2 separate regions of the Homo sapiens genome follow, and region 1 is linked to region 2. Evidence: fine-mapped expression QTL. A gene starts in region 2. The other region holds a variant in brackets. All regions are shown on one strand. Distances are from middle to middle. Region 1 overlaps LINC01619 (long intergenic non-protein coding RNA 1619). Region 2 holds the start of LINC01619 (long intergenic non-protein coding RNA 1619).

What was found. PIP is the estimated chance that this variant, and not a neighbour inherited with it, causes the effect.
Region 1: its variant is fine-mapped to the expression of LINC01619 in whole blood (TOPMed, PIP above 0.99).

The regions. Positions count from the first base shown.
Region 1 is chr12:92,024,164-92,039,696 of GRCh38, forward strand. The region is part of intron 1 of LINC01619 (long intergenic non-protein coding RNA 1619); the gene reads right to left. Among named protein-coding and RNA genes, the nearest start is that of LINC01619, 110 kb to the right of the region's middle. RefSeq lists enhancers at 10,810-11,104, 10,828-11,137. The variant T/C (reference allele first, on the strand shown) is at 6,658.
Region 2 is chr12:92,134,862-92,150,394 of GRCh38, forward strand. LINC01619 (long intergenic non-protein coding RNA 1619) reads right to left here and starts at 7,970. Exons shown (of 5, transcript NR_132341.1): 1 at 7,746-7,970. It overlaps BTG1 (BTG anti-proliferation factor 1), which reads right to left and starts at 10,985. Exons shown (of 2, transcript NM_001731.3): 1 at 10,527-10,985; 2 at 5,417-9,586. The coding sequence starts at 10,674. The coding sequence ends at 9,219. BTG1-DT (BTG1 divergent transcript) reads left to right here and starts at 11,224. Exons shown (of 3, transcript NR_135036.1): 1 at 11,224-11,382; 2 at 11,801-11,901. RefSeq lists enhancers at 7,070-7,359, 9,387-9,626, 9,647-9,696, 9,957-10,006, 9,966-10,502 and 2 more and a silencer at 10,427-10,746.

The DNA.
Region 1 (15,533 bases), 110 kb before region 2:
AGCCTTGGGGGCCCCCAATTAATGAGTTAGTTACTAGAAAACTCAGCAGTCAATAAGACTCAGCCTCATACACAGAGCATTTGATCAGCTATTTACAGTATCATTCTTATTGTGAAGAGTCAACCAAAGATTACCAGGTATTAAAGTACGCCACCAAGATGAAAAGCAAAGACATAAATAAATAAATAAATAAATAAATAATATAACTCGGAGGGAAAAGAGATAATTCAAAGGGCAGAATAAAACTCTTAAAAAGTTACACTTTCAGGGAATGCTTACATACTATTGGTGGGAATGTAAATGAGTACAACCTTCATGAAAAACATTATAGCAATTTCTCAAATAAGTAAAATTAGTACTTTCATTCAATCCAGCAATTTCACTATTTGGTATCTACCCAAAGGGAAAACATCATTATATAAAAAACATACCTACACTCATATGTTTATCATAGCACTATTCACAACAGCAAAAATATGGAATCAACCTAAGTGTCCACCAATGGAGACTGAATGAAGTTATATATATACACACATTTTATATAAATATAAAAAATACATTTTTATATAAGTATATAAAGTATGTATTTATATATGTTTTATATATATATATATATATATATGGCATGGAATACTACTCAGCCATAAAAAAGAATAAAATTATGTCTTTTGCAGCAACGTGGATGGAACTGAAGGCCATTATCCTCAGTGAATAACTCAGAAAGTTAAATACTGCATGTTCTCACTTATAAGTGGGAGCTAAACAATGGGTACATGTGAACATACAGAGGGAAATAATAGACATTGGAGACTTCAAAAAGTGGGAGGGTAGGAGGGGGTGAGGGTTGCAAAACTACATATTGGGTACAATGTTCACTCTTTGGGTGACGGGTACACTGAAAGCCCAGACTTCACCACTTCACATACAATATATGCATGTGAGAAACTTGTACTCCCTAAATATAAATAAATAAATAAATAAATATTATAACCTCAGAGAAATATAAAAAGATATTATATCCACAAAACAAATCAAACAAGAATAAGATGCTATTTTTTAAAGAGACCATGAGAAATATATGAAAGGATTCTTTCTGATTGACCAGAATTTTTTAAGTAGGTAGAATTAGAAACATAAAGTTGTAGAAATTGCCCAGAAATTAGATCGAAATAACAGAGATGGAAAATACAACAAATGGGGGGAAAAAACACAATTATAGGATTATACACAGGAGATCAGAGATCTGAATTATTGTTTCAGAAAAAATAAATTGAGAGGAAAAATATCAATAATACAAGAAAAGGTACCACATAAATGAAAGATTATACACATTAAAACCTTCAGCATGACAGCAAATATCTCAGAGTGACTTAATGCCATACACTGAAGCATGGAGTTTGCTAGTAAAGAATTACAAATACTTACTGACCAAAGATAGTCATGAGCTCAACTGCTTTATGGTAAAATAATTAGCAATTGAGTCTTCCTGCAATTGAGGATGTAATCAGTCATGAGACCACATCATGCCAATTTTCATGACCAGTTGAGTTCAGAAACTTTGTTTCTTTGTGGTTCATAGAAGTATTACTCCTAGATAAGAAGACTACTGTCTTTCGCTTTGAGACGGGAGTCTCTTTTAGAACTCCAAACATCAAATGTTCAAGTCTGAAAGCTCATAACTGTCCAAAAGGAGTTACCCACTAAGTGACTTGAATTACGCCTAGAATTCATTTCTCTATCTGTTCAATTTTCATCCCCCATGAGAATCTTCAATAATGCTAGAGAAATATCTTCAACAACAGCAGCGTGATGACTTGCAAACATTTACTGAGTAGTTCCCATGGAGGCATGAAAATACACTGGAAAGCAGGCTCATCAGATTACAGGGAGAGATGAGCAAAGCAATTTATTTATTTAAACTTTTTATATGAAAAATTTCAAATATATTTTGAAATTTCAAAATTCAAAAAAGAAAAAAGAATATAATAAACTCCATGTACTCTGCTTCAATAATTGTCAACTCACAGTCAAACTTGTTTTATTTACACCCCCATCTAATTCCATTCCCCCCCACACCACTGGATTATTTTGAAGCAAAACCAAGCCATCACATCATTTCATCTTATGTATATCTTCATATGTATATGTATATATGAAGATATACATGAATTTATACATGAAGATGAAATGAATATATATATAGGAATGAATATATATGAAGATGAATATATTTGATATATACATATATAATCAGAAATAAGAACTTTTCCTTAAATCTAAGCACAATTCATTATCATAATTAGAGGTGATTAACAATAATATATAATATTACTAACTATTCAATCACATGTGCATGTGTGTGTGTATGTTTTGGAAACACTATAGGTTAAAACATAGTTGATTGTTTTAATTCTTGTAGTTATTATTATTTTATTGAGGCTCACATCATCTCATCTTTGCCTAGAAAAAGGCTTCCCTAGCTGGCTCCAAAGTGTTTTAGACATAGCCCCAAAAGTCACTGCTAGCTCTCTTGCCCTTCAGTATGATAAATTATTCCAGGTTCATGTTACACAATTCCTGCCCCAGATCTGTGATCAGTTCTCGCCCAAAGATCCCAGGTTCCTTTTAGTGCTCACAGTCTGAGCACTAGATTTTGAACCTAGTAAATGAACCCAGAGATACTCATTTTACCTACCTTGTCATTATTGCTAAGTCTTTTCAGTCAATAGAGCCAGGGAATTTATATTTTTACATTAAAATACATCACAATTTCAATTAATAATTACAATATAATTTAAAGACTAGAAGGTTTCTTTTTGGCTCTGTTTTTGTTTTCTGAGACAAGTTCTGGCCATCACCTAGGCTAGAGTGCAGTGGCCCAATTACAGCTCACTGCAACCTTGAAATCCTGGGCTCAAGCGATCTTTCTGCCTTGGCCTTCTGAGTAGCTGGAACTACAGGCATGCACTACCATGCCCAGCCATTTAAAAAAAAAATCTCTTTTGTAGAAATGGGGTCTTGCTGTGTTGCCTAGGCTAGTCCCAAACTCCTGGGCTCAAGCAATCCTCCCACCTTGGCCTCCCAAAGTGTTGGGATTATAGGTGTGAGCCACCACAGCTGGCCAAGACTACAAGGTTTTTACTTAAACGTTTTTTCTCTTAAATCTAAATTACCTTTCTTCCATACCAAAAATCCTAGTTCCTGATACCAACATAATTTCACTTGCTTTATCCCATAATGCACACAACAGTCTCAAGAAGAACGAGAGAGAGAGACAGAGAGAGAGAAAGAGAGAGAGAGAAAAGAGAAAGAGAGGGAGGGAGGGAAGAAAGGAAGGAAAGAAGGAAAGCAGGAAGGCAGGCAGGCAGATGTAAACAGTAACAACACTATCATCAATAATAATTTTAAAAAACAATGTAAAATTGTTTCACAATTCTTTTTCTTAGGAGATATCTACATACTGTATCATTTGAAATCATTCCTCTCTGTGAGTATGCCACTAATTTGAGACTTAGGTTCATTCATGTCATTTCGCTTTCAAATTTCAGAGATTGCTTTGTTTCATGATTATTTTTTATAGTCGTGTTAAACATTTATATGCTTTTGAATTCAAAACAAAAACAAAATAGATTCAGACATATCTAGCTGTGAATCCTGTCCCCCACCACCTGGTTTCCACCCTCCTCCATAAATAATCGTTTCCTGCAATTGCTTTTAGCATAAGCAAATTTGTATTCAGATTCCTAGTTAAATAGTAGCATGGTGGACACATTTTTTTTCACCATGACTTTTTCTTACTTAGCAGTAAGCCCTAGGGGTTATTCCATAAACTTACTGATTTTTTTTTTTAAAAGTGTGTTACTTACTAGCCCAGGTGAAAAATTTTGTCTATAAAATGGGACCATTAGTAGGCAGCTGCTGGGAAAAAGAAGATTTAATCCAAGAGTATTATTTTTAAAAATATGCAGATTGGGGCTTTATAGTAAACCTTCATAAAATGACTCACCAAATTCACAGCATCGAGCTGGGAAAAATTAGAGTAGGTGGCTTTGCTTCTTACAGGCATACACAGTGTACAATTTTACCATGCAAAATGCTTTTGCTACTACAATTTTCCTTTGCTTTGCCTTTTTGAAAAGTAATGTTCCTTCCTATTTTAGTAGTACCATTTGCATTCCTATTATTCACACTGAACTGTGATTTCCATTTTTATCTTCCGTTTTTTACTTGTTTTCATTCCAGCATTTCTCCTCTTGGTCTTTGCCTTTCCTTTATCTTGCCCTTAAATGGAGGCCTCGTGTGCTATGGGAACAGTGCCATGAATTTTCTAACCATCATGCCAGGCCTCATCCCAATTTAATGATATAAGTTCCCTTGAACCATTGCCAACAAAGCTAGGACATCCCACACACATTTGCTATGGAAACACCTTCATGACTAATGGTCTCTCAAATTAAGGCATCTTAAAGTTAAAGCTAGAAATGGTATTCATTTTTTCAAAACATATTCTGCAGTCAAGGAAAAATATATAGCAGTTCTCTAAAAGTTATGAGTTGCTGTATTATTATAATACCCAGTTTCTCTGAGAGGTAGACTCCTACAAACCCAATCTCAAGGTGTGTGCAAAATGAACGCAAGAATTAGTTGATACTCCTCTGTGTCTTTAACTGAGTAGCCTCTGTTCTCCTCTGCTGTGTGTTTATGAGCTCAGGTCTTTGGATTGTGCCAAGTTCTTTACCTTAGAACAGAAGCAGAAACATTCAAGACCCTGCATGATTTGGATGCTGCCAAATCAGCAGATCACATCCCACCACTTTTCCCTCTCACACTGTCATAGCAAATTACACAGACTTCTTCAGGCCCACCAGGCCACTTTGTGCCTTTGTCCAAGCTATTGCCTCTGTCTAAGAAGACTGTGCTCATTTCCCAGGGGAATCTCTGTTTTATTCTTAAACACCTTGTTCAGGCATCACCTTCTCTAGCACACCTTCTTCTCCTCCCCAGTGAGAGCCGGCCCTTTTCTTTCTTCCATCTTTTCTTATGTATCCATGGATCTGTGACTATCTAGAGGGCAAAATAGATGTTCATTTGTTCCCCACTATGTGGCACCATGCCTGATTAGTACTGGTTCTGCTCAACCATAAATGATGGTTAATTAAATAACGGAATGAGTCAATGGGCATGTGATGTGCTCTCTTAGGTGTAAAAGGGAGACTACACTACCACCTACATACATGTTGCATTGAAATATCTGACTTAGATTTCCTCTGTTTCACATCTCTGTTTGGAAGGAATGGGGTTTTAACACACATCTCTGATTGCTGACCATGATGATTACCATAAAAATGGTGAGCATTATGGCCAGATGGAAATGAGATATGTTGATTAACTTGAATGAAGCAAAGTGGGCTTTGCCACTCTCTGTTCTTTTAACAACCCAGTCTTTAAAATCCATGCAGACGAACATCCCAGGAATCCTTTTCATCTTATATTGGGCTTTCCTATATGATGCCTCAATGCTCCTTACATTGGCTCAGCCTTGGCATATCCTTCTAATTGTCACCTTCCATTCCCTACCCACTGCTCCTAGTTGAAGACTGGCCTGCCCTGGAGTCATGTCTACACATCCTAATGAATGCGTGGCAAAAGTTGCTAATTTGATTGATTAATTTATCCAGCCCAATGAGGCAAGACAAGAGTAGTGACTCCCTGGTTAATTATAGTATGAATAACCTGTGTAAAATTATAGATGGACAGGCCTTATTCTTATGTGTTTCTTTTCAACCGGTCTGGGTTTGACAAAGGATCTCACTGTTCTTATTAAAGCAGTTTCATTATTCCAATGCTAAGGCAAGTTTTGGAACTGCCCAGTGAGAAGCAGAGTCACAGGACATACCTTATGCTCTCTAACAAATGCCATCCAAAAAACAGACACCACTGTTGTCCATCTCCTGGATGACAAAGCAGACACTTTGCAACACAGCAGAGGAGGCAGAAGGGAAACAGCTTCCTTTGCTGGTGACCAGCAGAAGCCACCCCTATTCCACTTATGCCTTTATAATCTCCAAATGCAATGGAATAATTTTGCATCAGGTTCCTGACCACAGAAATGAAACTTTTTTTCTTATTACATTTGTGTGTTTGTGATAGATGTGATTACTAAACACAGGTTTATTCGGAAGTTAACATATCTGTTGCACAAAAAGCCACTTCTCCAGCTCTTACTGAAGGGGTCATTGAGAAGTCAGAAATTCCAGTTCCTAAAAAGCTGGATGACTTTACTAATGCTGTCTTTTCTCAGTATCAGGCTTTATTACACCTTTTCCCAGAAGCCACTCTTCGTTTCCTAACTCTATCACAGCAGGGTTCAACAGAGTAGCTTTCTCCTATGCTAAACAAATGATTTTTTGAGATTTCTTTTCCACTCACTAAGCTTCCAGTACTATCTAAGTTTGCCAAATATCTCAAAGGAATTAAAGATCTAATTTAAGAGAAGATGGCAAGTGCCTTCTCAAAGAAACCGGGAGTACCCATCCTTAATGGTAAGAGTGACAAAGGAGGAAGCAGCAGTGGCCCATTTCCTCAGCCTCACTGAGCAGCATCTATGAAAAATGAGCTCAGCTGTTAACAGCCCGGGAGGGACTGCTATCTACCACA[T/C]CACAGTCAGTTGAGAAGAACAGGATGTTCTGAGTACAGCATGAACCTCAAAGCTAGAGTCAAAAACCATATTTCCCAGGCAAGTGTTTACCTTTGTCTTCAATCTTCAAGAGAGAACGTTTCTGTTCTATGAAGAGTTAAGAAAACCCTGCCTGAGAAAGGAGCAGTGCAGAACTGATACACCTCTTTATTTTCACCTTATTAATGAAAAGAAAGCTCACTCTGGGTTGATAACAACATACCAATATAGGAAGAGTGCCAAAGTAACCCTGGCACTCTTCCTATATTCTTTTTTTTTATTATTGTATTTTAAGTTCTGGGATACCTGTGCAGAATGTGCAGGTTTGTTACATAGGTATACAAGTGCCGTGGTGGTTTGTTGCACCCATCAACCTGCCATCTACATTAGGTATTTCTCCTAATGCTATCCCTCCCCTGGAACCCCCACCCAATGTCAGGCCCCAGTGTGTGATGTTCCCCTCCCTGTGTCCATGTGTTCTCATTGTTCAACTCCCAATTATGAGTGAGAACATGCAGTGTTTGGTTTTCTGTTCCTGTATTAGTTGGCTGAGAATGATGGTTTCCAGCTTCATCCATGTCCCTGCAAAGGACATGAACTCATCCTTTTTGTGGCTACATAGTATTCCATGGTGTATATGTGCCACATTTTCTTTATCCAGTCTATCATTGATGGGCATTTGGGTTGGTTCCAAGTCTTTGCTATTGTGAATAGTGCTGCAATAAACATACGTGTGCATGTGTCTTTATAGTAGAATGATTTATAATCCTTTGGGTATATACCCAGTAATGGGATAGCTGTGTCAAATGGTATTTCTGGTTCTAGGTCCTTGAGGAATCATCATACTGTCTTCCACAATGGTTGAACAGGCACCCTACAGAATGGGAGAAAATTTTTGCAATCTATCCATCTGACAAAGAGCTAATATCCAAAATCTACAAGGAATTTAAACAGATTTACAAGAGAAAAACAAACAACCCCATCAAAAAGCAGGCGAAGGATATGAACAGACACATCTCAAAGGAGGACATTTATGTGGCCAATAAACCTATGAAAAAAAGCTCATCATCACTGGTCATTAGAGAAATGTAAATCAAAACCACAATTAGATACCATTTCACGCCAGTTATAATGGTGATCATTAAAAAATCAGGAAACAACAGATGCTGGAGAAGATGTGGAGAAATAGGAATGCTTTTACACTGTTGGTGGGAGTGTGCATTAGTTCTTCCTTGATTCTTAAAGGAACCATGCTTAATCTCCAGGTCTACTTGTTTACAGCTGAAGTGAGCCCCCAAGCAGTTATAGATTAAATTAGTTTGCATCAGGTAAATTGGTTTCCACCAAACTGAATGAAGGCACAGAAGCTGGTTGGGATTCTTCTGTTAAACATTGTCTAGTCTCGGAAAGCAAAAAATAATAATAATGAAAGGAGGCACTAACAAGGAAATGAAGTAAGTTTAATGCCTAAAAATAGCCATGCTTAGTAAATACTCATTTCTCATCCTCAGTGAGTCCCTTTGTAAACTGCAGTTAAAAATGAAGGCTTAAGATGTGCAATCCAGGAGCTGTCAGGCCTAACTTCTATCAAGTATCACTGCTTAGTTGATAGCTGGTTGAGCATAGAATTTTAGAATCAGACATATCTGGTTTTCATCTGGGTCTACTTCTACTCATCAAGGGATCTTATGAAAGTGAATTAACCTTTCTGAACCTGTTTCCTTTCTTAAAAAGAACTATTGTGATAATTAAATAAGAGAATGCATATAAAGGTTGTATACAAGTTTTGTCACTTAAGACATACTCAGTAAGTATTATTATTATTACTAAATCAGTATATTAATCAGGACTCAATTGATTGTAAGTAAAACCGATCTCAGTCAAACTGACCTAAACATAAAAGGAAAATTGTTGCCCCACATGATTGAAAACTTCAACGGCAAGTTAGATTCAGGCACATATGGACCTGGGCACTGAAATGAAGCCCCAGGTCTTGATGCTCACCCGAATCTTTTTCCCCACCTTCTTCCATCTTGTGCCTTTGTTTTGCTGTTTTGCCTTCATTCTTCTGCAGCCTTTTTTCAGAACAATTCTACACTTATATTTTCCCACCTGAGAAACCTTGGCCCTATCAAAAGCTCGCTCTCTATACCTCATTTATTGGATCATATGCCCTTCCATCTCTGACCAATCACTGTGGCAGAGAGATAGAGAGGAAGAGAGAGAGGGAGAACTCAAACTGACCAAGCTTGAGTCGTGTGCTCAACCTGGAGCTGGAGGGTGATGCCAGCCACACTAAACCCACAGAATTGAAAAAGGGAGAAGGGAGTGACCCGAAGAAGATAAGGGGGGCCTGTTACTCAAGAAAGAGAGCATGAATGCCAAGCAGATATACTTGCAGTCCAAAACTTAACTTTTGTTTTCTTAAAGATAGTTGCCAAGAAACAGATGAAATGCAAACTTCACCTTCAAACTGAGAGAACAAGGTCTGCAAAGATGGAACAACTTCTCCCTTCTAAGGTGAAAGAAATAGGAATATTGGATTCATAACCCCTTAAGATGTTGACTTGCCATAGGTATCACCAAAGGACGTTCCAAGAATAGAAATGTTCTTGATGTCAAGCTAAAGTTTACATGTAGCTGGCCCTTTTTGGTCACCACATATGGTTTGGGCACGTATTTATTTTGATTCATTTTGACTCTTTTAAATATGTTTTATCTGTATTTTATGTTGAAAATATATCTATCTAACTGCTTTCTTTTTATATGGCCCTAACCATGTCTCACTCAGAAATAGTGTCCCTTCATTCTAATGTGACTTCTTCCTAGTGTTTCACCATGCGGTGAATGAAGAGGGGTGCTGGAAATGTCCCCAGATGTTCTAACATACTTGCCAAAGCTGATTACAGCATTTTTGTTTAATTAAAACAAACTTACATGACATATTTCTTTTCATAAAGGTAGTTTTTGTTTAATTGTAGAAAAGTTAGAAGATACAAATAAGGGAAAACAAGGAGAAGAAGGGAGAGAGGGAGACATGAATGAAGAAAGAGAAGAAGAAAGGAGGGAGGGAGGAAGGGAAAGAGAAAAGAAGACTTGCAGAGAAAACTTATCATCCCCAGAGAAGCCATCATTAGCATCTAAATGTTCAGCTTTTCAAAGCCCCCACCCCTTTTTTTTAACTATATATGGTGGGGTTATTTTTACAAAAATGTGATCATAGTCTTTTTTTTATTTTTATTTATTTATTTTTTTTGAGGCACGGGGCTGGCTCTGTTTCTCAGACTGGAGTGCAGTGGCTTCCTGCAGCCTTGAACTTCTGGGCTCAAGCAATCCTCCCACTTCAGCCTCCAGAGTATGTGGGACTACAGGTGCATGCTGCCACCACACCTAGTTCTTTTTTTTTAGTAGAGACAGAGTCTGCCCAGGCTGTTATCAAACTCCTGGGCTCAAGTGATCCTCTCGCCTTGGCCAACCAAAGTGCTGGGATTACAGGTATGAACCATTGCACCTGGCTGAATCATACTTTTATAACTTGCTTGTTCCACTACTCCATATATCTAAATTATTAAATATTATTTCTACTAAATTCTTAATACTAGGAGTTCTTAACCTTTGAGTGATAGACAGGTTCCTGTTTAAATCTCTTTATATTACATGAAAATGTTGAGCATATGGAGATTTTTCTAGGGAGATGGTTCACAGCTTTTATTGAGCTCCCCAAGGGTGCCCACAATCAAAAATTTTTAAGGCCACTGTTTTACACCCTCATTTTAAATGGTAAAAATAGATATATCTGGAAGAGATATAAACAGACACATATCATGATTTTTTTAACCAAATTCTTGTTACACATTTAATTCCATCCCACTTTTGAACTATTATAAACAATATGCAGTGAACTTAGCTTTTAAAACTTTAACTACATAACTATTTCCCGTGATACTGGCAGAAATGACATTGCTGGGAATTTTTTCAGTGTGAAGTAACACAGATTGACAAATTGTCACAGCACTTAACAAGTGACTTTTTACACCATAGAACCCACCTTGTTCAGATACTACAGCTAGAACTGTATCATGAGAGAGCCACCCTCCTGCACATACTGCAGGAAGGAGCAACATTTCCTGCATTTGTTTGGTTTTGTTACCGACTTGCCGCCCTGCCTGCCACTTTGAGGCACAGTTGCAGCGCCTCTGTTTACATTTTTGGAGGACACGTGGACAAGCCCAGGCAAAGCCGAACAGCACACGGTACATCAATCACACAAGGAACATCTGCTGATTCCCTTGGGGGAAACAGAATGATTCCGAGAGTTGGGGCACTGCCAACGGGAAATTCACACAGATGAAAGCAACAGAATTCATGCTTGCAGTTTCAAGGGGGTGGAGGAAGGAGGAGAAAGAGAGTGGGTAAGCAGCAAGGTGAAATACAGGGTTCCCCCCCGAGTCTCACTTGTTACATATGAAAAGGTTTAAATCAGTGTTTTAAAATATCGGAACTGGAAGTTGTGAAAGCAAAACTATTCTTTGGTTTCAGATGTATTTTCATCTAGAGACCTTATTAAGGAATTTGCTAGAATAGTTTTAGTGACCCAAAAATAAATATTGATTGGTTCTGTATGTATTTATAAAAGTATACCTGGTCTGGGGGATCTGAGGCTACTGGATCATAAGAGAGTACAATGAAACCAGAGTGTGCTAACCTGCACATCTTGAAGGACTAACATCTTCCAGGTTTGCTGTTGTTTACGTGCTGCCTGTGAAAAGCAGAGTTTTGAGTGTTTTCAGCACCAAAGTCCCCTCAAAGCAAAAGAACAAAACCATCAAGATGTTATTGGTAATTCATAATCTGAAGCTGAGCATATAAGAATTTGTCTTTTTTAATTGTGGATACATTGAATTTGGGCTCCCAAATGGTGTTCTTATGATTTCAGTTTTTCTCTCAGAGAAAATACTGTACCAACAAGCCCTGTCAGAAGTCACCTCCAAATGCATGGAATACCAGGAATGACCCCTCCCTTCCTTCAGATCTGATATTTCCTTGGCAAGCACTTTTTCTCAGACTATCTTGCCATCGAATTTCTATACCGCCTCAAGATGACACTTTGTCTAGCAAAAAGTGATGCAAAGCTCTTTTGCAAAAGCCCCTCAAATTAATACACCTTACATATTTTCACTAATAAAACTTTCCTTGGAAGCCCCATATGTGTAATTATGCTTTCACAGATGTAAACAACTAAAACACAAGAAGATTAAATGATCTCTCTGAGATGACCTAGCAAATCATCCACCAAATGCATGATGTCTGACAACTTATGACATACAAATGCTTACACTGACAACTCGCCCTCATCCTTGTTTCTGTGCAGAAAAATAAGGGAAATCGTTTACTGGCCCAGAAGACCTCACGATGGCAAATTCAATCAGATCCTCATTAACCAGATCAAAATGAGGCCTGACAGAGTCTTCATTAGATCTACAAAATCCTGTTCGTTTTAGCTCTGAGTCTCCTGACTTGTCCGTGTCATCATAAATTGGTTGTTTTGAAGTCAGAGAGGACAAAGTGCTTGCAGATGATGGTCACCCTGCCTGACCTATAAGGACAAGGTTCTGTTAGAAAAAATGAAACAGTGCAGCAGTGGCAAGGCCTGGCCAAAGAAATAGGTTTGCTAACCGGCAAGAAACAGAGAAAAGAAAAACCCAGTTATTTAAAAATACTGACCAAAATACTAACAACTACAAAGACATTGTCCCAGTCCCATCACGGAAACCAATGTAAACTTCTCTTGTGAAGCTGAATTACAGGTCACTTAAGTTCTATTACATACATTTTACATTCCCAGTCAGAAAAATGGCATCCTCTATATCTGAAAAAATTCATCTAACCCCAGATGAAGTCTTCTTTTTTTTTTTATAATGGAATTAAATTCTGTCACTTTTTTTAGCAGTGGTGCCAGCGAGACCAGCCACTGAAATAAGCAGAGTTAATGGCCATTGAGTTAACGGACTTGAGAGGGGCCAAAAAGCCGGCTTGCCAATGTGCCCGTGGCTTCCACCATAAAGTCACTCCAATGAATGGGGCACTGCATTTCCAAAATTCTCCTGTCACAAATGCTAATGTTGACCTATCACAGTGCCCAGGCCATCACAGACACTCAATGTTTATTGAATGAATAAAAGAATGATTGTTGCCTGTGAATGATAATAAGTTTTGATTATATTGGTTAGATTCTATTCCAAAAATATGTAAGTATCTGGAACATATTAACTCACTTGCTCTCACTATATGTGGTTATGAAATAGGTTCTCAGATTGGCCCTTTGCCAACAAGCCCAAGCCAGCTCTTAAAGAAATGGAACACTGGAAAGGAAAGCGTGGGACAGAGGCAATGAGATATGAGAAGGAGGGACTGGGAAGATCCTGAGGTTTGGCAGAGAAAGAAGCAACTTGATAGGTTAACTCATATCCGTGGCTTCCAGCACACTGTGGAGACCCATACCAATCTCCCAGAGGCCTAGAGGAAGAGTTTTACCATCCAAAGGAACTACTGATTAGTGGTTAAGCACACAAATTCAGGAGTTCAAATTCCTGCTCTCCTACTTCCTAGATGTATGACTCGGTGCAAAGTATTTAACTTCTGTCTGCCTTAGATATTGTTGCCCTGAAATGAGCGTCAGAATAACTCTCTCCTTGGGCCTTGTGAGGAATAAGATAATACACATAAAGCCCACAGAAGAGTGCTGGCCTGGCCTAGGAAGCACTCAGTTAATGCTAATTTTTATTCTTATCATTAATATCTCCACCTTATACTATCTCTAAGTAAGACAGTAGGGGTGAGCAATTTATCTCATACCATCACAGCTTCTACAAATACATAATAGAGAAGTTGGCTAACTGCGTCAACAGCGGTTGCCTCCTGTTAGTATATGTATCTCTGCATGAAGGAGATAGATATGTGCTTTTCACATTTATGCTCCTGCTATGGGTAAATTACTAGACCTTTCCTTGCCTCAGATGATGAATAGAAAAATTAGATAATAATAGTATGTGCCTCATTGTATTGCTGGAGAAGAGAGTTATATGATTTAGGCCAGGGGCAGTGGCTCACACCTGTAATCCCAGCACTTTGGCAGGCTGAGACAGGTGGATTGCTTGAGCTCAGGAGTTCGAGATCAGCCCGGCCAACATGGTGAAACCCCATCTCTACTAAAAATACAAAAATTAGCCAAATGTGGTGATGCACACCTGTAGTCCCAGCTACCCCAGTGGCTGAGGCAAAATAATCATTTAAACTCAAGAGGCAGAGGTTGCAGTGAGCCAAGATCATGCCACTGCACTCCAGCCTGGGCAAGAAAGTGAGACTCTATCCAAAGAGAGAGAGAGAGTTAGATTATTTAATTCCTAGACATAATCTAGAACAGTACCAAGTAGATAACAAGCATGGTCAATATTATTTCATATGGATGTGGGGGGTAGAGGTATGAGTGTGTGTTCCTCACAGTTTTTCTAAGGATGAGTACGATCTTGATAACCAATTTTCAATTTTAAAAAATCTGGGAACACATAGGTATTTACCCAAAACAGTTCTTTCACAGTATGGAGGACAGGTGCCACTGACATGATAAGGTGACAGAGACTTTGTTTCCTCAGCTTTGTGTTCCCCCTGAACTGGTCTGAGTAAAAAATCCATGCCCAAATCCGGGCTCTGGGGCGAAACCACTGTTTAATTCAGCAGCAGCGATTAAGGTCACCTAAAAAGATTATTGAAAGCATGATGCTAGCACTCATTACAGAGGGCTAGGGTTGATCCCTGGGTTAGCAGTCCTCACTTCCTGTGCTGCCCTGGGCATCAGTCTAGAATCACACACTCTGCATCCAACCTCAATTCCCTCAGTGGCCCCTAAGGGAGAGACTAATCTGCCATTTATTTCCAAATCGGTGAAATGGAAGGGCTATTTCTAACTCTGGGAAAGTGCATTGGTAGGAATGAGGCAATAAGCAGAGGAAACAAGTTTTGGGGGCTCTTTCCTCTGAATTTTAAAGTCAGAGTTTCCTGTGTAAGCAAAGCCGGGATTCTTTTTTCTCATTTAAGCCTACGCACCTACTGCGCACAACTTTGAAACTCAGAATGATTGTTCATAGCATAGTTCTGTAAAATAAATATACACATATAGATCCGTAAGATTCTAGGGGTGGGCAATGTATTCCTTACCCTTCCAACTTCTACAGATACACAATAGGTAAGTTGTGTAACTGCCTCAGCAGCTGTTTCCTATGCTTGGAATATGCGCGTCTGGATGAAGGAAAAAGACATGTGCATTTCACATAGAAACTCAGCGCAGTCCCCAAGTTAGGGAAATGGCAGTGCTGTGTAATAGCAATGAGCAGAGAAATGTCTGCTCATTGATATGTAAATGACAATAGCAGGCATTCTGCTGTGTTGAAGGAATCCCATGACTGGTTTGACCACAAGCAGGTTATTAAAGTGAAACAAGGCTATTTTGTCCATTATGAAAAGCACTGTCCTTTCCCAGTGAGTGGCACATTCAGGGCTATTTACATTTCAACAACCAACAATACATCAATATAAATACTCCTTTAAATCCACTTTCTTTTTCGAAGAACAGTAGCTGTTCAAAATCATGCGGTTACACAAGAATCTGAATCAAGCAGAAATAATTAAAAATCCAACATTCAGTCAATTCTATATATATTAAATCATTCATAAGTAAAGTCTTTCAAAGCCCTGGAGTAGAATTAAGAGAAATCTCATTTTGTAATCCTGGAAACTGAGGTTCAACTGTTATAGCCGGTAGCTATGTGTATTAAGTATTATTATGTAATCTATTTATTAT
Region 2 (15,533 bases):
CTCTTCTTATTTTCATAACTCACTATAGAGTGACATAAACAGGCTAAAATGAAAAATAGGGGAGGAGAGAAAGGTATTATGTAAATGTGACATTATCACAATCTTTTTTGATTGATCAAGATTCTAACGCTTAGGCCTAATAATAAACAGGCAATCCTTAGTAAGCTTATGAGTCAGTGATGGGGATATGACTCAGATTTTACTTTAAGGATGAAAAACCCATAGCAAATTGGGCAGGGATGTACTATATTACCAACCCCTAAATCATAACTAGTCGAAAGGCAACGGTTTCTTCTGGAGACAATTTGCTTCATGTTTAAAGTAACCACTGCCGCATGTTTAGGAAGCAAAAATAAAAGTTATAAAAGGAGAGGGAAAACAACTTATTTCTAATTTGAGGCCTGGCTCCACAGCCATATTTCTGAATCAAACATTAAGCGTCCCAAAACGGAATTTTCTGCGGTGGCAAAAATGTTCTAGCTCTTGATCAGGGTGTAGATTATATGGGTGTGCAAAATTCCCTGAACTCTTTGCATTTGATTATACAGATTTTTACATCAACTTAAAGAAAATAATTTAAGTGGCCCATACTTTGAAAGTTATTGTCCAGGAGGTACGTATACTCAAAATGTAAACCTAAAATGAAACTATTTTTTAAATCCTATTTAGGCTGGGCGCAGTGGCTCACACTTGTAATCCCAGCACTTTGGGAGGCTGAGAGGCAGGTGGATCACTTGAGGTCAGGAGTTCGAGACCAGCCTGACCAACATGGTGAAACCCGTCTCTACTAAAAATACAAAAACTAACTGGGTATGGTGGCGTGTGTCTGTAATCCCAGCTACTTGGGACATTGAGGCAGGAGAATCACTTGAACTCGGGAGGTGGAAGTTGCAGTGAGACGGGATCGTGCCGCTGCACTCCAGTCTGGGCACTCCAGCCTGGGCAACAGAGTGAGACTCCGTCTCAAAAAAAAAAAAGAAAAGAAAAGAAAAGAAATCCTATTTAAATAAAACTCCTTTGCAAAAATGACAAGTGCTATATTTTAAAGATATAGAAAATATTCAAGATCTGTTTGAATTGTGCTGTTTCATACACCATGAAAGTGACTCTAATCTAGTAGCTCACAATAAAATCCATCTTTTTATGCCAAACTTTTAAAACGTTAAAGGGTCACTAATATCTGTATCGGGAAAAAAAAAATCAATCTAGCCGTTTGGAAAAACCCAGCCTTTGAGTTCCATTTGGGTCCTTTTTGGACCAACTCCCTGACACCTTCATTAGGAAGTAAACACACTGCTGGTTGCCAACGCTTTAAAAAGAGATAATACTGTTAACAAGGCCTATAAAAGCGAGGTGACCATATGTCCTGGCTGATGCTTATAGTCTGTGTTTAATAATTAACAGCACCCTCTTTTACTCTCAAGAATCACGGTTTGGTTGATAAAATTCTCAAATTTTATCAACCAAAATGGTCACTCAAATGGTTATCAATCAAATGGACACGCTACCTGTAAAGCCCCACGATTTGGCCTCACTCCCATTAATTTCTCTCCATTCCAGTTTCACTGGTCTTTGTCCAACCCCTCCTGTTCACCATTACTCTTGAGCCAGGTTTTGTGCATATTCCTCTCTCTCTCTCGCCTGCCTTCTCCACTTAAACCCCTACTCATTCCTCAGATCTCAGCTCAAGTGTCCCTTCCTCTGGGAAACCTTTCTATGGCAGTCCTATCTCTCTATTAGAGCTCTCAGGACACCACTTCACCACTTCCCTTTTCCTCAGCATGTCTCAGATCCAGCCCAACATTTGTTGGATAACCCTCTCTCTGCCACTAGGTTCCAAGCTCATTGAGGGCAAGCACAGTGACTATTTTTGCAACCCTAGTGCTTATCACAGTACTTGGCACATGGAGGGACTCAACAAGTATGTGTTTAATAAATGAATGTAAGAGATATAGGTGATAGACACAAGACAAAACACCACTTGTATATTAATGACCAGAAAATATCTTAAGAAAGTTAAAAAATAACTGAAAGACTTAAAGGGTAGTGGAAAAAAGTGCAAGAATCTGAGAGGGAAAAAGAGCTTGTATCTAGTGATATTACCTAAGAGCTCCATCCTTAATTGTAACAATGACTACCGGCTTGAGAGAGAGAAATATTCCTGACAACACTGGCCACCTAACCCTTGTTTTAATGGGTTCCAAACTCTTATTCTTACATCACAATCTTAAACATTATAGGGGCACACTGACTGACTTATAAGGCTACACACATAGGTTCAAGCATGGCCTGAACCACACACGAGCTTTAAGATGCAAGACTTCTGAAAGGGTCAGAGGCTGATTTTCCCTAGAAGTCTCTTCAGGTTCAACAAAGAATGGGTCCTTTGTTTCCTATAGGATTGCAAAATAAATTAGCACAAAGCTCTGCTGGCTATCTACTTCCCTGATGTAAACCATAATGCTATACAAGCCCAACAGCAAGCTATTCAATGAGGATATCTGCACACAGAAAAAGCAACTTGAGTATAAACTAAAAGAATCCGTGATCACTGACTCATTTATGACTGGCTAGGGGAAATCAGTTACATTATTAGTGATTCAGGCAAACATTGCATCAGGTTACATCACAGGAAGAAACTCAAATTCAAACTGACAATTTATAAAAAGGCTGCTTTTCTTTGCAGTAAAGGAAATACTCACACCACTCTAGATTAAGAAGATTGAGAACCACTGAGTTCTGTTTAAAAATCACTGTTTGAAAATCTCTTGCAAAAGCATGGCCAAATACCAATGGTTTGAAGGACTAAAAACCCTGGGAAAAGTCAACTTCATATAGCAAAGGGTTGTTGTGAGGATTAAAAAACATAATGGAAGCAAACATGCTTTGTACAGGGCTACATTGCTATATATGTTCGGTTGCATTACTCCATCTCTCAACTTAAGGTGTCTTCAATATAGACAAAGGATCTGAAGGACTCTTTTTTTACTGAGAAAATAGCTCTGAAAACCACAATGTTAGGCACACAGCTCAGGAAAGCTCTATAAAATAAGATGCAAGGCCTGTGTTGTCTATTTCCATCCTTCACAATGGAAAAGCAGTTCATTTTCCTTCCTATATTATTGTATTTCAAAAACGCAAGTACATTTCTTGCAGCTATAGGCTAAAGCAATCTTTCAAGAAACTCCTAACAATCATACTATGATCAAATTGTTAAAACACACACACACACACACACACACAAGAAAACAATCAGCTATATTTTGTTGGCCTCCATGATAGAGTATTCAAATTCCAAGAATCCAAACATTCACTAGCTATATGATTTCATGTTTACCTTGACAACAAATGACTTGTCTCCATTATTACACAAGGAATGATGGGCTCAGAGAGGCTAAGCAACTGGTCCAAAGTCACAAGTTGGTACAAGTCAAGATTTCAACTTATTGGTCTGAGTCCCAGACTAGTATTCTTTATGCTAAATTCCAACTGCCTCTCAAAGAAAGGAGCCTAATTGTAGACTGCTATATGCCTCCGGAACATAGTGAAAGAGTTTCAAGGCTGAAAATAACCAAAGATGGCCAACTCACAATGAGAAGTTAAAATACATGTTCCAACAGTGTAAAAGAAGGTAGATAAATCATGCATCACAATGTAACAATAGTTAAGAGTTTGGATTCTGTGATCAGAAAAGCCTGAATTCAAATTGTGAATTAGCTGTTTACGAGCTGTCTGGCTTTAGGGTAAATTACTTAAGCTCTCTAAGCCTCAGTTTTCTATCCATAAAATGAAGATAAAAAATACTGACCCACTTGCCAACCTCATCCAGTTGTTGGAAGGTCAAATTAGAATATATATTGATAACTTGAAGACTCACAAGTACAATTTGTGGGAAATACAACTCCATTTAGTCTACTGACTTGGGACAAAACTGCCATAAATCAAGACAACTACTAGAAAGTGTACTCAAATCTGCTCATAAAGCAATTGTCAAGTCTAATCATTTTATGGCTTATGGTCATTTATGGAATCTTCTCAAATAAAGTCCAATTTGTTAGTCATCTTTTCCTTCAAAAATTTAGGGATGGCTCAGAACAAGAGGGAAAAGATACAGGGCCTTTCTTGCTAAGCCATAACTACTAAAATAATTAAATCACCCATCTACAACTTCGATAATTCAGTTCTCTTACAACCATGCATATCAATGTTACAAAGACCCTAAGATTTAAAAAAAAACTTCTGAGAAACAAAAATGTGAATTTCAACACACAGCAACACATAGTTGAATATATGGGAACATAGATTTCAAATTGGTGTAACACAATTTGGATATCTGTTGGCTGTAAAGGATGACTTAGTTTTATTATTATAAAGACTTATGCAAATAAGTTAAACTTATACAAGGCAATCCTCTTTGTATTGCTACACTAACTTGTCATTTTAAGACTTACCACTTAAAGAACATAATTATGAGTTATTTTGGGGAGAGCAAATATTCATCTACTTTAGTGAAAACCTAAAGAAATAGTCTCTAAATGTTTCTGATCATGCATCCTATCAACAAAATTTTTAGTGTATGTCAAATATATGTATATTTGTTTAGAAAATGTGCCACATGCTTTTGCATGCACACATGAAAATACATACAAAAATATTCTAAAAGAATGACAAAATAACTTTGGAGATGACCATCTAGAGAATCACTAAAAGTAAATGTACTCACGGGTGAAGTATCTCCTATTAATGCTACAATTTGAAATTATACATAGTGTTTGATGTAATATTCTCCAAATACAGGGATCCAGTTAACTATAATGGTACTAATGTGATGTTATATGTCTGGCCTACACTTGGTCATTTTTCTACCACCAGGAATGAGTCACAAATGGCCTTCACAACTTAAAGGTACAAGAAAAGAGGCTATAATCAAGTGGTTTGTAACAAGACACCTTTAAAAATAGTCTCCCTTTAGAAAATACTGAGACATTTGTGCTTTCCATCCACACCTCCCCCAAAACCAGTTCCCATGAAGTTCCACCTGTACTACCACTTTCACCTGCATGTTCACAGAAACAAATTGAATGCAGAGTCTCCCTGACGATTCATGAACTGCAGAATCCCCAGAGTAGAGATTCCTAAACTCTGCCAAGAGACTGTGCTGTGCAAACCTCTCGATACACAACTATGACCATAGCAAATGAATTTTTATCACCAAACCTTGCAATTCCTTCTCAGTTTAGCTTCCCAGTTTTCATTTTCCCCATCCTTTCCCTTTTTATCCAACTCTAGATTCAAATCATTTCACCTTTGAGCATCAGTACTCTCTTCTAAGCATACGTAATTCCCAAAAGAACACTGCATCTTCAATACTAAAATGATAAATACCATGAAAAGGCTCATAAATAACAGTCAGAAGTTGAACTACATTTTTTTATTCCTATCTTGGACATACTGAGCAATACGAAAAGTGATAAGCCAAGTTAAACCTGCAGTCAAAAAAAAACTGGTGTCAATCATACTCCACAAAGTGTTGAGGAAATGGTATCAATCCTCAGGATTAATACAATCTAAGGCTTACTTGTTTAGGAGCATTTCAAAAATATAACACTTAACATCAGAAGAAAATGATCTATAGGGATAAAGAAAATAAAGATCTATAGGCATAACCAGAAATCAGATCTCATAATGTACAGATTTCTCTATTTACAGTCCCATATATTAAATGATTTAAGGACTCAGTTAAGCAGCTGGGTCGGCTGGTATTACAAACTATCTTACTGTAAAAGATTTTGTGATACTGTTATATTAGTTCCAAATATGAAAATAAACCGGTTATATTTTGATAGCAGCCATATATAAAAGTTCAGTGGCAGAGACTGAGAGATAAGTCTAAAATGTTGGCAGTCTGTATACCTTCAGATAAATAAGAAATCTATTCAGTTTTAGACAATCCAAGATATACTTTTTGAAGACTTCCATGCATAGATAAAACTATTGACAAATGTTCTCCATATAGCCTATCAAGAGGATTTTATCACATCATTTGAAATAGGGGTGAAAAGGGGAGAGGAAGTATCTTTAAACTTCAATATGCAAAGTACAACTTCAGTTATCATACCTCTCTTCTGTAAAGAGGAAGAAGAGAGAGTATCAGAAATGTTAAAAGTCACGCAGGGAGAAGTCCAATAGTAGATTTATTTGCTCCCAAGATTAAAGGGAGCCTGGAAACCTGTAGTCATTAAACACTAGCCATCGGGAATACGGCTTCCTTCCTTTTAACTTGAAGGCCAATTTCATAAACTGCAACACCTATACAAAACAAAATTAATTACTTGCAATGTGTGAGTTATAATGACTTAAGGAAACTATTTGTGCAATGTACCTGAAAGCCACTTTCTGGTGGCCTTTCCAGTCTATTATTATAGAAATATTGCACATAAGGATAAAGACATGAGATTCCCATTCCAGATGACAAAGATAACAGCCGCATTATCCTGCATGAACCAGGGTAACTCTTGCTATACAATCCACTTGAAGCCTTGTTTCAACATTACAGAGGGAGGCACTACTTAAATTTGGAAAAAAGGAAATAATTTCAAAACTACCTGTTAAAACTTAGAAAGTAACACTCCTCAAACTTACTGCCAATCACAACTATGAATTCCTGGTGCCAAAGGCAACAATAATTTTGAAAGTAGTCATCCTATCTTAAAAGGATTTATAATAAAATATTTCAAAACATTCCCCAGAAACAGTGAACAAGAAATACATCACAAACAGCTACTGTACCGCAGATACAGGTTCAGCTCAATTGTCTGGGGAAGGTAAGGTTAAAGTCACAGGAAACAGCTGGTCTCAGAGTGATGTGTGCAAGCCTTTTTCAAAGACAAACTTATAAACAGCTCCTCACAAGCCAGACATCACCTGAATTCTAAAATAAACATTTTTATTAACTGTTTCCATCATTTTCAAAGATTGAAAAAGTCTGATGTCAAGATCTTCAAAAACAACTTTCCATTTGAAAAAAGGCTTTATGATAAAAAAAAAAAATGGTTGAGGTACTTAGTTTCAATGGAGTTACCAGATGAAATGTAGTTGGTAAACAACAGTAGTCAGCACTGGGGTGAGACCCATTTAAAAACAACCCTACCTGGTGTTTTTATTGTAATTCAAGTTTGAAATACCGAGGAGCTTTTTCACAGAATAGGTTTAAAAATAAAACCATAACAATTGGCAAGGGTAGTCCATGTGTTGCGGGTCTACGAATTCTAACTCTCGAGAATGGTGTGCCAATAATATCCACAGACATTTGTACTCTAAATACCTGCATATTCAGTGGCCTATTCCTGTGTTGTCTACAAAATCAGAATAATTTATTCCTGGGTGTAGAAATAACTTCTTAAAAGTTATTTGAGATTACTAATTTCAAGTAATTACTAATTTTATTTCAGACTGCGTATTTCCAGTGTCAACATGTTTACATATATACCAAAAAAAGGCCACTATATGTTAACTGTGTAGAGCAAAATTCAATTTTTCCACTTTCAATTTCCACTGAAAAACGCTGTTATCCTCTACAACTAAACAGCAAGTCCTTCTATTATATGGGGTAGTGAAGTAATCTACACTACAGCATTATCAAGGTTCACTTAGGTTTTTAGTATTTATCTGAAATAAAAGTCTGAAAATGAGGAATCGAGAAAGTCAGCATTTCAACTTTTGAGAATAAAAGTTCATAAACATACCTTTTGTTGAATTCCAGCTTATGTGATTTTTATGTACATCTTGCAGGTGATGAAAAGCAAAAAGCAACCAATCTCTCTGTGGTGTTTAGCCTGTTCTTTAAGACTATGGGTCACCTGCCCCGGGGAAATTTCTAATTGAACAAAGAATCCATGGGGCAAAGTAATTGTTTTTCAAAGGTGGGTCAGAATGGAACATTTATATCTTCACTTCAACAGGGAAGCAATGAAATGTAATCCTTTGAGTATCACATTTTTGGTAGATGCTACCGTGGTCTCTTATCCTTATTTCATGAGATCATTAGCCTGTGAATGTGTCCATGTTTTGACTTTAGAAATTTTTAAAACATGCTACTCCTGTGTTTCCTGTAAAACCTAAACATGTATATACAGAGCATCTTCATTCCTCATCAAATGTTTTTCCAGCATGACCAGTGTGCAACAGAGATTCAGTTTATAGAACCTGTCTTCTAAGAAAAAATACTTTTAGCTAAACCTCTATAATCATGACAAGAGATTGATTAAAATGCCAAGATAAGAAACGATTTATTATAGAGAGAAGAAAAATTTCTCATCCAAAATATAGAAATCTGTACAACTTTGCCACAATCAATATACATGAACTGTACAAATTTACACCAGTTCATAATTTACCAAATAAAAGATGACTAACAAAGTTCACAAAATAGATGGTGGTTTGTGGAAAAGACTTTTACCCAATTAAGTACAAGGAAAGTTACAAACCAGACCTCCACTTTCTAAAAATAAGAAGTTTACTCAGTCTTAGAAAACTACAAGCTAGCAAATGTACAGAGAGCTGGCTGGTGCTAACACCACAGTTGAGACAGTGTCTTTTTAAGGGTCTTTTTTAAAGCCTGTTGCCATGGCAGATTCTGGTCACTTGCTACTTTCAAGGCCAAAAACACAATACAAGGTCTGACCATTTCCCCAGGTCATGCTTACTAGTTTGTCTTTATGTACATTTATACATATTTAAGTGCTAGGTAAAAGTCTTGTAAAATTTCCAGTACTACCATGTTTAAAACGTTTAACTTTCCTATTAAAAGCTGCCGAAAAGGTTAACAATAACAACTTTCAAGTGTAATAGTGCAAATTCCCCTGCGAGATTTACTGCAGAGAAAGATTCTTTGAAATACAGATTTTCTTTAAAAGGATTGATGTAAAAATTTAGGTATGTCTGGGAGAAACTGAAACCACCCTAGGACTTCCCTCCCTAGCAAATAAAGTGATCATTTACTTGGACTCACAGGCTATTAAAATTAATCATTGAAAGGTACTGTCCAAACTATGGCACTGTCACTTAAAATTTTTTTTTTTTTTACCATTCTATCTTGTGCCAGATCTTCACAGCTGTGACATGGTTTAAATTCCATAATCCATCCCCAAGAGGAGCCCACCCAAAGCAAAAATCAAATTTATCCATCATCATCAGATGATCCATCCACAGACTATATCTTAACCTGATACAGTCATCATATTGTAGTTTTTGGAAGGGCTCGTTCTGCCCAAGAGAAGTTCCTCCTTACAGCTGATTCGGCTGTCTACCATTTGCACGTTGGTGCTGTTTTGAGTGCTACCTCCTGCTGGTGAGGCTTCATACAGCACACAGATGGAGCCATCCTCTCCAATTCTGTAGGACACTTCATAGGGGTCAACCCAGAGTGTGAGTTCACTTGGGAGAAGCCTGAACAGCTCCTGACTGCTCAGTCCAATCCGCTGTGCTGCCTGTCCAATCAGAGGATCCATTTTATGGTTGATGCGAATACAACGGTAACCCGATCCCTTGCATGGCTTTTCTGGGAACCAGTGATGTTTATAATGTTCTATAGAAGAAAAGAAGAACAGAGAAACAACGCTTAGGATCGTTAGCTCCCACTGCGGATTCCTCCTACCCCAGGCTCCTTTGAGGAGCGAAAATGAAAACTATCAACTTTTTAAAATGTCCAGGATTGCATCCGTTGTTGTGCATGTGCGGGGATGGAAAAAGCGGGCAGGGTTTTAGAAATAACACAGTAGTACCGGACAAAACAATCTCCAGGAACCAACCGGTTGAGCCGCCAAAACAGGAATCAGGCGCGCAGCCTCGGCCAGTCGGGAAGCCACTGGCACCTATGGCCAGGCGAGAAACTGTTTACTTTCTCCACCCCACCCCAGATGCACACAATGGAGTTGATGGCTTTGGAGATGAGAAGCGCCACCGGACTGTTAACCCCGAAGGGAAGAAAAACAAGCAACCCTAAACCACGCTCTGGGCAGGGCTGTTAATTGTGCCGGTGACAAATCCGATGATTAATGGGCAGGGGCAGGAGGCGCGGGGAGACGGCACGTCCGTTCTGAGCTGGCTCCGGGGCAGCGGCGCAGCTTCCCACCCCGGGGCTGGGCCGCCGACCACGCAACGGTTGGAGGGGGCTGAGGAAAGGGGACGTCGAACCCACCCCAGCCCCACGGCTCCTTTGTCCCCAAATCCGCCGACGGTCCTCGGACCGCAGCTCCCGCCTCGGTGGGCTTAAGTTTCTTTGTTGTGCGTGTTGTCTTCTCCTCTCCGTTTTGCCAGCTGGGGGGAAGGGGGCGCCCTCCGTCCAGCCCCTAAAGCCTCGCGGGGAACCGCTGTTAGCGGCCACCCAGCGCAACCACACCGGTCCCGCGGCGGGGCCCAAGCGCGACCGGCCCCGGGGCGCTGCCGAGGTTCCCGCAGCCCCGACGGCCGGACTCTGACCCAGGGATGTGGGGCCCGCGTCCCTCCGACGCCCTCGCCCTGCTCACCTGCCAGCAGCTCCTGCAGGCTCTGGCTGAAGGTCTGCAGCTGTCGCTCGCTCGTGAGCCCCTTGGTGCGGAGAAACTTGGAGATGAAGGACACGGCGGCGGCGATCTCGCCTATCATGGTGGCGGCCCGGGTGTAGAAGGGATGCATGGGGGCGGCGTGCGGGGGCGGCCCGGGGCGGCTGGGGCTCGGCGGCGCGGCCCCGACGGCGGAGCAGCCACCCCGGGCTTCCTCACCGGGCGGAAGGCTGAGAGGAAGAGAGGGCGTGAGGGGCGGACGACTACTTTTGTCTTTCTTTCTTTAGACTAAAAAAGTTATTTTCGAGACAGGAGGCGGCAGGAGAGAGGAAGAGACGAGCGATGGCGGCCTGGTCACATCGCTCGGACCTCCCCAGCTGCCTCCGCCTCCAGCTCCGCAGCATTCGAAGATCTCAATAGCTGCATTTCCAGCTCCGAGAGGCGAAGAGATGCAAGCGCCGTGCAGCACCCTTTATAGTGCCACGAAAAGGAAGTGGCGTAGCTGGAGCGTGATGGCCGACTCCAGCCAATCCGAATATCGCACCATTGTGACGCAAGCCGGTTCGGAGCCGAAAGGGGCGGGAAAAGAGTTCAGGAGGCGGGTCCAGAGATAGGGAAGAGAGGGAGGAGCTGACGTAATCCGCTTGTAAACAAATAAACCCGGAGTGGCGGCTGGAGACCCAGTTGCTTGTGTCGAGGGAGGGAGGGAGGGAACAGAGGGTGCGCGTGTGAAAGCTCCGCCCCCAGCCCTAGCTCCTCCTTCCCGCTTCAGCAGGTCCAGGCTCTGCGCCAGTGCATCCTTCTCCAAGAGTGCGCTGCCTGGGCCCGCTTGCCCTGGAGTGTAAGTGCTGGGTAAATAAGAACCGCCTGGCGCAGGCTGTGTCTACTCTTCACGCCGCCTTCTCAGATCGGGCTGCATGTCCCCACTCCGTGTTTACATCTCGTTCCCGCTCCGGGTCTCGGTGACTGGCTCCTCAAGCCGGAGACGCGTGTGGTGCGGCGCGATGCGGGCGCCAGCGCTGTGTGTGCTGGCGGTGCGCTGCCTTAGTGCGGGGGAAAGTGGAGGGAACGGTCCTGCGGGGCGTTCTGTCCAAGAAAAAGGACTGCAGCCTCGGGGAGCCAGGGTCCCCTCGCAGACGAGCTGCCAACGCCGCGGAGCCATTTCTGTTCCACCCTAGGGGAGGAGTAGGGGGATATCTTTTAAAAGTTTAATTGCAAAATAAGTAGGTTAGTAAGGCCATTTGTGGTTGCTGTTTCAGTAACTTCAGCAGTCAACGGAGAGAAGAGTGGAAACCTTACTGGATGCGGACAGGAGAGCCAGTTACTGAAAGCAGATATAACGCGGATCCTGTAAAGAGTGGTGTGTATCCAAAAAAAAAAAATCTGTACAATGTATTTTAAAACTTGTGTGCACAAAACTGAAGATTTTCTTTTTTACCTAGTCCAAATGCCGTCCTAGCCTGAGTCCTGCTCTTTATAAAAATAAAATAAAAAGAATTTGAAGCTTGTGAAAGTATTAAGTGTAGACATTCAAGTTTATTTGAAACCCTACCAAAAAAAAAAAAAAACAACCTTAAAAACCAGTGTAACAGGAAGGCGGGAGCCTGCTAAAACGATTAGGCCTAAGACAGGGTTAACCCCAACTCCATTAAGGAGAAGGGGGAAAAGAAAAAAAGAAAGATGAAGGGAGGCAGGCAGATGGAGAAAGCAAACAGGAGGCAGAAGTTGAACTCTACCAGATGGAAATAAATATCCCGACCTTAGTTGATCATCAATATTGCAAAACACACCACTTTGAGTGTTTTTTTTTTCTTTTTAATACTGAGCTAAAGGATATAGAAATGAAGCAAAAATAATGACATTATAAAACAGGAGAAAACGTTTTATTGTTTAAAAAATATGTAAAACTCGATTTGAAAAAATAACTTCTAGATTATTTTTTCATTAGTACACATAACTAAGTAGTTACATGTGAAAAAATTAAAGAGTGGTTTTTTTTTTTCTTATAGAACTTTTCAGATAGAACTCTGCTTAAAAATAGTAATTTCACTGGAGGCATGAAACCTCTTTTACTACTCAAAAAGAAGATCGAGAAGCAAAAGTAAATTCATGAAATTACCATAACACTAGAATAACAACTCCTGGTCTCCCACCTAACCTGACCCACCCTTAGTTCCCTGCTTTCACTTACATTGTCGTTAATGTGTCACTGAGTACAAATTAGGAGTCAAGTGAAAGTTTTTCTCTTCTAAACCTGGTCTCCAACTTGGCCTCTCGGTCATGTGCTTAAATTGTCTCATCTAAAAAACAGAAATATTAAATCAACAAAATGCTAGGATTGGACTCAGACTTCCCCCAAGCCCTTGTTCTCCATACTATTTTTAACTGCCTGCACTAGCAGCAGCAGGACCCCTTCTGAAAGCCTTATAAAACCAGTTGAACAGGGTTAACAGAAAGTTTAACCCATAGACTCAGGGAGAGTTACTTCCCGCACTGAGTTTTTCAAATTATATATGTGTGTTTCCCACCTTAAATCATCCCATTAGGAGACAAACTGATTTGAGAAACTACAGTAATTTTTAACTTGGGAATCTACAGAGTACTCAGAAAAAAACTGGAAATAAACATTAGTCTTAAACGTAAGCCTTAGATGGTACATAATGTTCATTGCTAATAGTTTTCAATTCCTGACATATATATGTTTAGTCACATTTTCTGGAAGTTTAGTCAGGCCCTTCCCATCTGGGAAACAAGCAGGTATTTCTGGACAGCTTTTGAATTACAAAGGTGCTTTCTGTGTTGTTGTGCTAAGTTTACCAAGGCTCTCCCAAGTACTTTATTATTATCATGCAATTTGATAGTAATTTATGAAATTTTTTTTTTTTTTTTTTGAGATAGAGTCTCGCTCAGTCACCCAGGCTGGAGTGCAGTGGCGCGATCTTGGCTCACTGCAGCCACCGACTCCCAGGTTTAAGTGATTCTCCTGCCTCAGCCTCCCGAGTAGCTGGGATTACAGGCATGCACCACCACGCCTGGCTAAATTTTGTATTTTTAGTAGAGATGGGGTTTCACCATGTTGGCCAGGCTGGTCTCAAACTCCTGATCTCAGGTGATCCACCCGCCTCGGCCTCTCAAAGTTTAGGGATTACAGGCGTGGGCCACCACGCCTGGCCTGTCTAATTAATTTCTAAAACTTAGAACATTTCTAATCAAAGTATTAAAAATCTTAGGAATGCTGTCAAAACAAATTCAAAAAATGAACCTGGGTTTTAAAATAAGTTGACAAATAAAAGCACAAATATTAGATATTGTTTCCCCAGTTGGACCCGCCCTTTCCCTGAAGGCACATTAGGGCCAGGGCCTTCCAGACTGAGCCAGAGGCAACCTGCCTGTTGCTAGTCAGCTAGCTGCAGTCACTAAAGTTGTGCTTATTACGCACCTACTTCCAGATAGAGTGCTAGGTGTCTAGAAAACTCACAACTTAACCAATAAGTACAGAGTCAAGTGAGAGTTCTTGAGAGAGTGTTAATGGCAAATAGAGACAGGGCACTTATTTATTTGTGTGTTGCGGGGCAGAGGGAAAATAAGAAAACCCCAAAAGTGAATGATCTCAGCTAAGCCAATGAAAGTGACCCAAGATTAGTTCTCCTTGGAGGAAAGGAACGGGCTTGATCTTGGAGTATCTCAAAGGCATAAACCAAGGAGGATAAGTATTGTTGAAAAAACTGGTAGATGGAGGCAGGCATAGGGTACTTGAGAGTACTCTTGAGAGTGTTTTTAGCAGACAGATTATATGATCAGATTTATCTTTAAATAAGTTAGCTTTTCTTGTGGGCTTATGTCTTCAACTAGATACCTATGCCTCTTATTTATCTATTTTTTTGTTACCCGCAGAAAGGAGAAGACCACTTTTAGTTGCCTCCCTGCTAGCACCCTGACTTGCTCTGCTTGAATAAGAATCCAAGGACACAAGCTAAGACATTTGCACTGGGTTTAGATCTACTGCGATTCACAAAACACAAAAGAACTTTCAGTCAGAGGGTGACACATAATGATTTTAGACAAAACTCAGTTTCTTCTGGTGGAAGCTATTCAGATTGTTTGGAGAGTGGGAGGAAAAAGGAGTGAAGCATCGCTTAACAACAAAAGTAATAATGCAGGTTATTATCATTTTATCATTAACAATGCATCAGTGCTAAGTGTTTTACATGCTTTCTATCTCTCTCTTTTTATTTATTTATTTATTTATTTTTTTTTTTGAGACTCACTCTGTTGCCCAGGCTGGAGTGTGGCGGTGCGATCACAGCTCACTGCAACCTCCGCCTCCTGGGCTCAAGCTTATCTTTCCACTCAGCTTCCTGAATAGCTGGGACTTCAGGCACGTTCCACCACGCCTGGCTAATTTTTGAATTTTTTGGTAGAGACGGGGTTTCACCATGTTGCCCAGGCTGGTTTTGAACTCCTGGGCTCAAGCGATTCACTCACCTCAGCCTCCCAAAGTGCTGGAATTGCAGGCATGAGCCACCGCACCCAGCCATGCTTTCCCATTTAATTCTCTAAGAAACCCAATCGAGTGAGTATAGTTGACAGCATTTAACATATAAGAATACAGTCTTAAAGAAAATAAGTAATTTACCCAAGGTTTTACAGCCAGATTTGAACTCTCAAGTCATGGACTACAAAATTTGAGCTCTAAATACCTGGTAGGGTTTTCAAGGGAGCTCCTGATATTACCTTTCCTAAAAAGGACCTTGAGAAATAAAACCTGATAAAGTTAGAAGACCATCTGGAGATGAGTAGAGATAGTAGTAGGAAAAAAAAAATCAAAACTCAAGGCAGCTGAGGGGACATCTCATAGCTGACATAATCTGTAAGATACAGCTACATTTATTAAAAGGCCCACTGGAAAATGAAACAAGGAACATATTAAAATGTTAATCTGCCAAATAATTTAACTGGAATGAAAATTATCCCTAGGTACAGATAAGAGAA